3 separate regions of the Homo sapiens genome follow, and regions 2 and 3 are each reported to be linked to region 1. Evidence: microRNA targets listed by miRTarBase, many of them from high-throughput screens and not tested one by one. Region 1 holds a microRNA gene; each other region holds the end of a gene's coding sequence.

What was found. Region 1 holds the annotated microRNA hsa-miR-219b-5p (AGAUGUCCAGCCACAAUUCUCG, at 1,403-1,424, shown strand). A microRNA usually pairs through its seed, bases 2 to 8, with sites in the 3' UTR of a target mRNA and lowers its output. Matches are read on the target gene's strand: a 7mer-m8 pairs with bases 2 to 8, a 7mer-A1 pairs with bases 2 to 7 and ends in A, and an 8mer does both.
Region 2: the mRNA of TVP23A is a reported target of hsa-miR-219b-5p. Seed matches in the 3' UTR shown: 7mer-A1 at 2,162-2,168.
Region 3: miRTarBase lists CRISP1 as a target of hsa-miR-219b-5p. The part of its 3' UTR that is shown has no 7-base or 8-base seed match.

The regions. Positions count from the first base shown.
Region 1 is chr9:128,391,232-128,395,361 of GRCh38, forward strand. It overlaps MIR219B (microRNA 219b), which reads left to right and starts at 1,390; the gene lies at 1,390-1,477. It overlaps URM1 (ubiquitin related modifier 1), which reads left to right. Exons shown (of 5, transcript NM_030914.4): 5 at 1-785. MIR219A2HG (MIR219A2 host gene) reads right to left here and starts at 2,270. Exons shown (of 1, transcript NR_186569.1): 1 at 780-2,270. MIR219A2 (microRNA 219a-2) reads right to left here and starts at 1,483; the gene lies at 1,387-1,483. RefSeq lists an enhancer at 1,803-2,508.
Region 2 is chr16:10,766,617-10,770,616 of GRCh38, forward strand. TVP23A (trans-golgi network vesicle protein 23 homolog A) reads right to left here. Exons shown (of 8, transcript NM_001079512.4): 7 at 3,656-3,715; 8 at 59-2,485. The coding sequence ends at 3,656. NUBP1 (NUBP iron-sulfur cluster assembly factor 1, cytosolic) reads left to right here. Exons shown (of 11, transcript NM_002484.4): 10 at 1,333-1,416; 11 at 2,431-2,735. The coding sequence ends at 2,489. Among named protein-coding and RNA genes, the nearest start is that of NUBP1, 25 kb to the left of the region's middle.
Region 3 is chr6:49,831,681-49,835,680 of GRCh38, reverse strand. It overlaps CRISP1 (cysteine rich secretory protein 1), which reads left to right. Exons shown (of 8, transcript NM_001131.3): 8 at 238-1,424. The coding sequence ends at 365. Among named protein-coding and RNA genes, the nearest start is that of CRISP1, 33 kb to the left of the region's middle.

The DNA.
Region 1 (4,130 bases):
GAAAGTGGCAAAAGGTTGTCCCAGCAGTGTTGGGGGATGGGGTGTGCACATCATTCTTTTGGGGGTAGATGACCTGCTGGCTGGTGGGCTTTTCTCCAGGACTACTGCAGGTAGAGACCCTCTGGGCTTGTGTGGAGTGGGAGCAGCCGTGTTGGGACTATGGGGAGGAGCTGGTCTGGGTGCAAATTAAGGCCAGTGTTGGGGTCTGAGTGCTGTCCAGAAAGGCTGTGTGACCAACCCTCACTAGTTCCTGAGGTCAGGGTCTCCATGTTAGGGAACAGAGCAAGAGACTTGGAACAGCTCCCTACAGCTGCACTTCTAGAAGGTCAGCCTGTCCGATTCTTGTAACCTGGAGGTCCCTCCCCATCTGCAGCCCCCTGAGCTGCAGGAGCGGCCCCATCAGTGCACCTGATTGGAACACACTAGATTTCAGGTCCTGGAAACTGGGCGCTAGGATCCGTTTCCCTGGCTGCAGAGAGTGGGAGGTGTGATGTGGAATATCCCTTCTCCCAGCACACCCCAATTAATACTGAAGAGTAGGGCAGGAGGAGGTGCTGGGAAAACCGGGTTTCTTGGCACATGGGGGTGCAAGCACTGTGGTTGAAATTGGCCATGTCCAAGGCACACCAGACGATTTCAGGTCATTTTTAGCCCTAGACTGGAAAGGGGTCAGGGGACAGGTGACCTGGGCTCAGCCCCCAGCAGCTCCCAACTGCCCCTCTCCCAAGCAACTCCTGATCCCTGCTTTTGAGGAAATAAACAAATAAAACCCCGCTATCTCCGAAGATTTTTCTTTAATGAAAAGGATTCGTTTTTCCAAATTCTATTTCCAAAGCCGAGGAGATTGCCGGGCTGGAGCGCATCGTTGGTGACGCTTGCCCGTCGGACCCTGGCAGCGGCTGGAGGAGGCTCAGCCCATCGGTCCGTCCGGAGGGGCTTGCGGGAGGGGTTGGTTTGTTTGGGATTTAGGGGTTGGTTGAGGATTTGTTTTGTTTAGGTAGGGAGTATTGGGGTGATAAGTTAGAACAACTGCGAAACGAGTTAGCGGGCGCATTCGGCCGGCCTCTTCTTTCACCCCCGACTTCATGCGGCTTGGGCTGAGGGCGGACCACATTCGGCCCCGCCGCTGCGTGCCGGCTTCGTTCCGGCCGAAATTTGAAAGGAGGAAAAACGACGCGATCGACTGAAGGACCCTGCCGGCCGGGACTGGTCACCCGCAGAGAAGGAAGAAGGACGAGGATGCGGATGGCGGCGCTGGTGGCAGGGACCGGCGTCTCTGTGCGCGCGGGCCGGGACCGCGATCCTCGCGCTGGGGCCAGCCAGCCGCCGCCCCGAGAGGTCTCGCCCGCGCTGAGCCCTGTCCCTGGGGCCCCCGCCCCTGTTGCGCCCGGAGCTCAGCCACAGATGTCCAGCCACAATTCTCGGTTGGCCGCAGACTCGTACAAGAATTGCGTTTGGACAATCAGTGGCGAAGCCCCTGAGTTCAGGGCCCTGGTCTCCTGCGGGGTTCCCCTTCGCTCCTAAAAAGCGCCAGTCCAGGACAGCTCGGAGCTGCGCGTCGGACCACCTAGCAGGCGCTCAGCAGCGGCTGCCCATCCGGCGGTAAGGTGGACTAGCAAGCACGCGGATCCTGACCCTGTGCGGGGATCCCCATCGCCCCTGGCGTGGCTCCTTCGATCGCGGCCCGGAGTCCGCAGAGTGGCCCGCGTTGGGTCTCAGCGCCGCCCCAGGTCGAGGGGGAATCTCCTCTGTCTGGCCTGGGGAACCCCGACTCCCCTCTCCCTGCCCCCAGCCTGGGATCTCCGGGAATCCGGAAGGCAGGAGCCCCAGGCCGGGTCGCGTTTCCGAGCCCGGGGTCCGGGCTGCTGGATTCGTGGGTCCCCCGCCCCCGCCCAGCCCCGCGCACGCACCGGCTCGGGCGCTCTCCGCTTTCCTGTGGCTGAGTCGCGGCCGGGGCGCCTGCGGTGGCGGTGGCGGCGGTGGCCCGGGCGGCGGGGAGTGCTGGAATGCGCCGCCGGGTCACCTGCAGCGCCCGTGGAGCCGGACTGGGAGCCGGCGGGCTGCCGAGGCGCAAGGCTGAACCCGAGCAGGCGCCTCTGGCGGCTCGGGGCCGGGGCGGGCTTTTAGTGGGCCGCTCCAACAATACGGGCCTGGCGCGGAGAAAGGGGCTCGGCTGCAATTGGTACTGGATTTGAATAACGCCACGGGGCCATCAATGGTCATTGTGTCGGCGGGTAATGAATCTCCGCTGTCTCTCGGGCTGGCCAGGCAGCTGCAACCTGCGCTCAGGCAGCTCTTAAAGACATAGCGTGCCCCTCCCCGGGGGCCGCCTCCCCCTCTGCACCGGCCGGACCCCTCGTCCTCCCACCCCCACTCGGCACCCTCAACTCCCGATGCCCCGCCTGCTCCCTCGGCCTGACCCCTTTGCCCATCGCCCCCTCCCTTCTCCTGGGCCAGGCACCAGCATCCCGGCCCTGCTCTCCCGTGGACCTGACTCAGGCCCCGGCCTTGGCTGAGCTCTCCAAGAGCACCCAGGGCACCCCAGAGTCTTTTACGGCCCACCCCCTGTCTCCCAGCTGCATGGAAACCAAAGGCCTCTGGAGCCCCCTCCCTAGGCCCCTGCCCAGGGGCTTCCACTGGAGGGTGAGGGGGAACAGTCTGGAAGTCAGAGGGTCACCCCCTGAGAAGACCATGCTGAAGGATAAAGGAGAAGGGGGTACAGTCCCCACCCCTGGGCTGAGGATGCCATCCCTGGAGACCACACCCCACGCGGGAGCTGGAGCCTGCCCCCTCCCCCGACCAAGGACCAGAGCTTGATTCCCAGGCTCCAGCAGGCTCCTGGGTACCTCGGGGCTAGCAGCAAGGGTGGGGGGAGGGGAGCAGGTGGGTGTGAGAGGGGCGTGGAATCTGTGAATGCTTGTCTTGTCATTGTCTCTTCCATTGGACAGTCCACCCATCCAGGAGAGCAGGGGCTCTGTCCAAGGTCTAATGCGCCCCCAGCCCCACCCCCAGCCTGGTCTGGCAGAGACGGTTCTCAGTCTATTGGGTAAATACATAGCCAGCTTCTCACCCCCAAAGCCCAGCCTGTCTTTCCCAATGAACCTCACACCCTAAAGTGGGAGTGTGTGGCCATTTTTCCCATACAGCCTGCCTTCCATTCACCCCAGAGTTCTCCAAGCACCCAGAATACCCCTGCCTCTGTCCTGGCACACCAAGCTGCCTTGCTCTGAAATGCTCTCCTGTCCTCACAATCTCTGGGTGGCCTTGCCACGTGCCCGGCTGAATTGTGAATATCGGTTTGTCTGAGTCTCCTCCCTAGGACAGGAAACGGGTCCTACGGATCTTTGTGCCTCCAGGGCCTAGTACAGTGCCCTCCCCCCAACCAATCATTAAATATCTGTGGGTGGTTGCACGCATGCCCGGTGACTTTAAAATGAGCCACATAGACTTCTTGGAGTTTCTTATAAAAGTTGAAAGAATGTTGCTTGTGGGAGGTAATTCTTGCAGCCCGGGTTTTACAGGGAGGGAGTCCTGCTAACCAGATCCCAACTCCTGGGAATGCTCCATTTGGTAATAATAACAGCAAAGAGTGTATTGTGTGCCAAGCACTAAGCTCTTTGAAGGTAGTAGCTCACTGATTCCTCACAACAACCCTGGAAAGTAAGTGCTGTTATCAGCCCCATTTTACAGATGAAGAAACTGCAGAGCCCTCCTTCCTTAGGCTCCTCCCTGGAGCTTCCAGCTGGAGAGGGAGGGGGAGCATTCTGGAGGTCACAGGGTCACTCCCTGAGAAGACCATGCTGGAGGATAAGACAGAAGGCATGCAGCCCCAATCCCCAACCTCCAGAGACCGCACCCACTAGGGATCTAGAAACCCAGAGCTTTAGGACTTGCTGCACACTCTAGTTTCCAAGCCTTTATTTAGTGGGTACAGAGGGGATGGATGTAAATGCACTTAAAACGGCTAGACCCAGGAGACACTCTGTGTCACCTTATATTAATACATTATAATCCAGTCCCAGCCCACCCCAGCCTGGCATGAACACAACCAAGATGGACTGGGCAACAATAGTCTCTGATTACCAGGTGCCATGGCTGGTGTCCATAATCCCAACACTTTGGGAGGCCGA
Region 2 (4,000 bases), not on the chromosome of region 1:
GGCGGAGGATGTCCAGGTTCTTGGTGTCTGGAACAAAAAATTGGACAAAACGCACAAAGAAAGGAAGGAAGGAAGGGATTTATTGAAAATGAAAGTCAACTCCACGGTGTGGGAGGAGAACGGGCCTGAGAATAGGGGCTCAAAGGCCCCATTACAGAGTTTTTGTGTTTAAATACCCTCTACTTGAGGTACGCCCTATATAAACGAAAAGGATGAAGTAAAGTTACAAAGTCATTTACGGCATACGTCCTATGGAGAGGACATTTCCTGTTATGGCTCAAGTGCGAATTGGCCTTATGTTCCCTGCCTCTGGACCCTATTTTCCTGACTCACTGGGCCATATGGGCTCCCCATCTCCCACCAACCCCTCCCCACAGGCTTCTTCCCCGACTTGGACTTCCCTGTCCCACAGGGCGACACAGTAGTGAAGTTGAGGAAATGATGAGTGCTAGGTAGGAACCCCTCCTGGGGTTCACCTGAGGCTGGTGACCGGCCATGGGCAGTGCAGTCACTTGCCTGTTTCGCCAGCAGCTCAGGCCTGGGGAGTGGGCAGAGCAAGCTGATGGCAGGTCCACCCACGACTGGGGGCTGGCAGGGCAGACTGGAGGCGAGAACACCCCCATTGACCCCTAGCCCCTTGTGTCCTGTCCACCTGGCTCTGGGATAACATGGTCCTAGAGAAACCTGGGTGTGCATAGGAGGGGACTGGAACAATGGCCACATGGCGGGGAAAGACTAGCAGACTGATAGACACCAGCACAGATGACCTGGAAGATAAAATTATACACAGACAAAGCAGCAGGCAGAATGTGTGTGTCATGTGCTCCCATTCGTATTTTAGGTATATGAGAGTGTGTGTATGTGTGTGCGCACACATGCAAGTGTGCACATTTATATGCGCATAATCTTTCTGGAAAGACACCTAGAACACTAGTAGCCCTTTTCGGACTTGGCCTTTTATGCCATATCCTTTTGCATTCTGTACTTTTTTTAACCATGTGCATTCATGATCCTTTCACTCAAAAGCTAATCTCTTAAAATGCAGACTCCTGGGCCCATGTGGAAGCTGCTGAATCAGTTCTCTGTAGGGCCCTGGAACCTGCATTTTCTGTACACCACCTGATTATTTAGCCACGCTGAAATGCTGGCTGGGGACCCTGCTGGAAGGAAGGTCCCTGAGACCCCACTGGTCTTTTCTACTTTGTTCTTCATTACGAGTGAAGCGGGCTCAAGATCTTCCCATTGTCACCAGCACGGAAAGAGCCCCAAGATCTTGTGGCCATTCTGTTTTCCTCTTGGACTGAATTGTCTTCCGTTTGTTTCTTTTTTAAGGTAAGAATTGTGACAAAGGCCAGTCTTTTTTCATTGACGCCCCAGATTCCCCAGCCACGTTAGCCTACAGAAGTATAATTCAGAGTAAGTATTTCCATGAGTACTAAATGCAGATGCCTGTGGGGCAGGAAGCAACATAAAGGAGCCAGGGGTGTGGAAGGACAGGTGGGTGGTGGGGTCTGTGATGACCACAGAGTGGCCCCCATAGCCGAGGAAGCCAGGAGTCCATGAGAAATCTCTCAATGTGTGAGTATTGTGAATTAATTCATAGTTTAAAAAACATGGTGAGGGTGAAATTTATGGCTTAGGAAATACATCCCAATAAAGGGATAAAGTAATTCATTTTTAAAAGTAACTGATAAAAAAAAAAAAGGCCAGGTGCAGTGGCTCACACCTGGAATCCCAGCACTTTGGGTGAAGGAGGCAGGCAGATCACTTGAGGCTGGTCAGGAGTTCAAGACCAGCCTGGCTAACATGGAGAAACACTGTCTCTACTAAAAATATGAAAATTAGCCGGGTGTGGTGGCGCATGCCTGTAGTCCCAGCTACTCAGGAGGCTGAGGCAGGAGAATCGCTTGAACCTGGGAGGCGGAGGCTGCAGTAAGGCGAGATCGCGCCACTGCACTCCAGCCTGGGCAACAGCGTGAGACCGTGTCTCAAAAAAATAAAAAATAAAAATAAAAACTTTGTTGAGCCAGACCAAACCCACGTGCAGGCCACATTCAGCCAGTGGCAGCCATCAGAGGCCCCAGAGTTAGGGCAGAGGTGTCAGTGTTTGTTAAAGCTGTGGTCTCTGAGTTTGTGGCTGGGTTTTACTTGCCTAGAAGAATGATGTCAAGGGTAAGGAAACAGCATTCCCAGAATCCTCCATCTATAGATGGTCCGAGGAAGGCCGCAGCCACTGGTTATGAGCAAGATGGGTAGTGTGAGGTATTCCGGTCACTTTCAAAGACTCAGGGCATCACAGACACAGGTCTTTTTATGGAACTAGCCAGAGGATTCCACCCCTGTCAAAACACAGCCCTCCCCAGCACAGGACAGGGCTGTCAAGGGGTAGACAAGCCATTAGCACTCTATGCCTGTCGTCTTGTTTTCCAGGAATCCAAGAGTTTTGTAATCTCCATCAGTCAAAAGAAGAGAACCTCATCAGTTCCTGAAACGAGAGAATGTTCAGGACCAAGCAGTTACCGAGCGAGGCACTCACTGGGCAGCACATCCAGCCAGACCCGACCAGCTCCGGGATGGGGTGGGTCACAGCAAAAGGACCAGATGCTGGTGTGGTCCGAAGCCACTTTCTCAGAGACACTTTAATCATTGAGTATTTGTACACTTTTCTTTAGAACATATATAAAGGGCATTCTCTACAAATGTGCCGTTTTAAGAATAAAACCCCCTCAAATCTCTCCCCCGAGGCCTGTTTCACGTAAAAAACAAATGGGTTGTGGGATCGTGGGATTCTGCTGTGTCGGAAGCTTAGTCGATTGTAGAAACTCCCGTTTAAGCCATTTCTGCCTGTGAAGATAAGAAAGCCTAGAAAAGAACCAAAGGGGTGAGTGTGCGGCTTCACTGCAGAACACACAGGCTTGTTTTCAAACACCACAGTCCAAACGCTTTTCTTCAGATTGAGGAAAAATCTAAAAGCAACAGAGCTCAGGCTGGGCTTCGTTCTAAAATCACTGCATATGACACAGCTGGGTCAAATCAAAAAGCCCTTGAAGAGTCCTTGAATCACCCAGTAAGACAGAATGTGGGGTCTGTGTAAATTCCCTGTGTAGTAATATGTGCACAGTATATCCAGTAATGTCCAGTGTCATGCAAACCAACTTTCAGGTTTTTTAATTATATAAAAAAGAGGGACAGATGTAAACTCTACGATCATCCTCTTTGCCATGAGGTGCTTGCTCTGTTTGAGACACACAGGATCTGAGACCACGTGGGAGAAGAGTAAATTCCTGTTTTCCCTCCACTCTGGGGCATAAAAGTGGGTGGGTGGGAAACAAGAACAAATCCCCTTGTTCTTTCCCTCCCTTGTCTCTTCCCTCCCCGCCCTTCCCTAGGACCATACATATGATCAGATTTGCACATGTTCAGTGTGAGGAAGGTGTGACCTCGCCCCCCGACCCCCAGCTCCTCACGCCAAGAGCAATGAGGCTGCAAAGCCCAGGGCAGGCCCATTGCCCAGTCTGCTTCCTGCCTGGTCACATGCCTGGCCACCCCAGGGAACAGGGGAAGCCCACCCAGACCCCGGGCCCCTGTGCCCCAAGAGCTGCATTTTTCAGAATTCCCCAGTTCCTCCACACGGGTGCCATGATCCATTTCTCACCTAATGCTGGTGAATCTCCAGCCCCTCGAGGCCAGGCTTCTGAAAGTCACCTGGGCAGGCCTGCAAGGGGAAAAGTCAACCATGGTTTTCTGTCCTTACACGCGAGTGGGGCGATCCTGCTGATGGAAGGCCAGAGAAAACCCACAAAGTACAGAAAACCTGCGGAATTGGTTGCTTGATGTCTTGGCATAAAGCAGTGCTGTTCAAATTTAGGACGGTTCTACCCATTTCAGGATGAACCTGGTCAAATTTCAAAGACTTCTGTCTCTCACTTTTAGAAATATCTATTAAGTTAAAAAAAAAAAACAAAACAAAAACAAGCTGGGCACGGTAGCTCCCGCCTGT
Region 3 (4,000 bases), not on the chromosome of region 1:
ACTTAAAAAATTGTGATAAAAACTTGTTTTACACAAAGACAAAAATTTTACCTTTTTCTTTTCATACATGATCTTATCACCTGTTTTGCATTCAGATTTAGTTAGCTTATGCTAATTAAATTTAGTTAGCAATTGTTAATAAAAATTTCTCTTTTTGTCTTTAATAAGATGGTCTCTTTCCTCAGCAAATGCGATTTTTAAAAGACTGTGTTGTAAAACCATACTATTTTCTTTCAGCTAACCCCTGCATCTACTATGATGAATACTTCGACTGTGACATACAAGTCCATTATCTGGGATGCAACCACTCAACAACTATCCTATTCTGTAAAGCCACTTGTCTGTGTGACACTGAGATAAAATAGGTCTTTGTTATTTTCAACTGTTCTATGCTGTGACGATGAGGAGGAGATGTCTGTTGGATTCATGTCTTTTGCTATAGTTCAGTAGCTTCTGCTAAATTTCACTGATTTTAATCATGCTGGAGACCTTAACTCCCATCCTGATACATCCTGAAGTAACACTGTTTTAAACTTTCTTAGTGCTGGAGTAAAAGGTCAAGTCCAACACCTGCCTTAAATTTAAATCATGTGATTTATAGTTTTTAAGTTGGCATAATTCAACTTATGGTATAACTGGGTCCCTCAACAGTAACCTGGGCTAAAATAGGTCTTATGTGGTTCAACTCCCACCCCCGCCTTCCCCATATTTTCAACCACTCTGATTATCTTCCCTGCACAACTAACATCCAGTAATAATTCTTCACTTTTAAAATTTTACTTCTACTTTAAATCAATCATTAAAGGAATCCACAAAGCAAACAGAGTTCAGTCTCATCTTGCAAGGTAAATATCATTTAATTGGAAGTAGTTTAAATGTCTCATTGTTTTATTGACACATCTATATATACATTTGTGAAGCAAGAAACAATAAAAAAGCTTCGTATGCCATTAATTTAACAAAATATGTATTCAGTACTGATTGCATACAAGATGCATGTTTATATATATGGAAGGAATATAGTTTCATTTCATTGCAAAGGCAGTATAAAAGATATATAAAATAGCATAATATGAGAAATTAAGTCCCTAAAGACATATAGGTCACATATTATTATTGCCAGATGAGCATAAATAGCTTCTGTTTGGAGATTCAGGAAAGCCTTAGGGTGGAATGAGGAACATCTTCTGAGTAAACAGGGTTGCAAAGGTTATGATTATTTCAACACAATGGAAGAGCACAGTTAAGGCCAACTAACGTAAAATGCACTGAAGCCTTAGGGAATATTGAAGGGCCTGACATGGGGAAAGGGAAGGCTAAAAATACTTGGTCAAATTTTAACATTATACCAAAGTTATACCCAGTTCTACCTACTTGTATATTTCTTTACTCATTTCAATAAAGTGTTTGAAAAAAAAAAAAAAGACATCACCCACTTTCCAAAAGTAAACAGGTAAGCCATACCTCAAACCCATTCTGCATCATACAGAGGTTCTCGTCACAGGTACAAAAATTCTGTGTGGCTCCAAGAAAAGAGGACAATTTGAGAATGACGCCCTCTTGACATGACCCATGTCTTTCCATTTAGATCTATGGGCATTTCTCCCATGTAAATCCTTCAGACCCATTCTCACTTTTTACTTAAACTACATATGTTAGATCTATCCACTTGATTGTATCTATCTTTTGAGTAATTGTCATTAGCACAATCATGGACATATTAACATCAGGAGAACAGTGACTCATCCTGGGACACAGTAAGTAGGCTGGTACTTTATAGCCGAAATATTTAATAAATGGAACTCATTACAAAAATCAAAGTAATAATTTACTCTAAGAAAATTAAATGTGTGTGCTGTAGAAAATCTTTACTCATTTTTGCATTACCAGGTATTGTGATTTCTCTTACCTCACCAAGGTAGCATTAGATTTTAGAATAATTAAATTAGAGCCCTGAGTTCTGAATTTTGCATGCTAGATAACCAACTAATCCTGCAGTCTACTGTAACATATTGGCAGGCAGTGTTACTGTATTCTTACACTACAATATGCTCTTTCTAGAAATTAACATGATACTTCTCAAAATTTGCATTCCAATCACATCTCTTCCCACTTTGCATAAGAGTAAGCATATTCAAATATTTCTTAAGGGTTGGGGAAGGAGGAGGAAGGGTATGCCTACGTCTAAGGAAAATCAAATAAGCAAGTAACAAAACTTTGACCTCATTTGTCTACATTACCCAAATTTAAATAATATGTTGGCTTATCTCACAATAAATTGTATTTGTTAAATATAAAAAGTATTCCCCCCAAAAAATATCTCAGAGCAAACTGACTGTGTGAAAAGTACCCTGTAATGAAGAAGGTTGGGGGCGGTGGATGACCTCATGTACACCATTCTTCTATTATCTCAAAAGCTTTCAGAATCACACATATTGTTTGGAAAATCATTAAAAAAGCTATTTTAGATGACAGAGAAAAAACTCTTATTTACCATGCAACATCTTTCTAAAAAATGGAAACAGTCTTACACCTCTTTCCAAATGTTATTGAATATAGAATAAATAATAACAAATAATTCTGAAGCAGAAACAATATCCAGTGGCAGTCTGTACTTTCACAGTAGTAAAAGAAAAAAAATAGTTCTAAGTGTGTAATACAAAGATTAAGAGCATGAGCAGAGGTGTCACCCAGCTGGTTTGAATTCAGGACACAACATGTGCTTGCTCTGTGACTTTGAAAAAGATTATTTTTCTTTGTCCTCATCTATAAGTTATAGTAAGAGATAGAACCTACTTCATAAGTTTGTTTTAAGGATTGAATGAGTTAGTATGTAAAATCCTTAGAAAGGTATCTTGTGCTTAAAGTGTGCTCGATAACTATTAGCTGGCATTATTATTCATTCTCTTCAAACTCCAGTCCCTGAGCTCTGCCTTTCAGACATAGTTGAGCGGCACGCTCTGGACTCTTCCCTTTTGTGAACTCAGCAGTGAACATGTGTTATGGTGATAAATGAACAGTCTCTGCCCCAACCCAAATAACATAACAAGTATGGAATAATTTATTAATACAATAAAGGAGCTTTCACAGAAATCTATAGTATAAAACTACCTTTGATTAAAGAAGACATTCAATTTAGTAGAAATACCTGATTTCACCACATTATTTAGTAATTCAATGCAATCAGAATGGAAATATCAAGAAGAGCTTTTATAGAATTTACATGTTTATCCTAAATTCATTTGGAAAATAATTATTCAATAGAGACCACCAAAATTAAAATTAAATTAAAGATGTGTGTTTTGATAAAGATATTTACATATGAGAAAGATAATTTTTGGAAAACAGTATTAAAATACTAGGGCAGGAAATTTGAACAAAATCATGACATGAAATCTTGAAAGTATTTATTTGAAGATAGTAATTTCACTGGAAAACAAAAAAAAATGTATAAAGGCAGAAGTACAGCAAGTGAAAGGTTAAGATTAATTTTTAAATCTTTTAAAAGGTCGATACATAGTTGATCTATGTGACTTATGTATGTTTACATAAATATAGAAAATGAATCTATAGATTGATAATAATGAAAAGTGTTACATTAGAAAAAAAAGGAGAGAAAAACCACCAAATAGGTACAGAAATGCACATGCCATTAAACAGAAAAGTTACCTCTTTCATAATGCAAAAAAGTGTATTCCAAATATAGTTAGGATTATCTTTCTGTCCAGCCAAGAATAAATTAATTATATGTTAAAATCTACCCATCAGAGAAGTGGGAAGAGGCAACCATTTCAATACATCATTAGTGGGAACTAAAAGTTTGTAGAAAGACCCCTATTTAAAGATACCAAGTGATATTAAAAATAACATGGTTTTTGGTTTGTTAGTTTCTCATGAAGGAATGTATTATACTGAAATACTCACATGCAAAAATGTATCTCTATAAAAAGATTTTTACTTAAGCATTATTTATAATAAAGGAAAACCAAATGCTATAAAA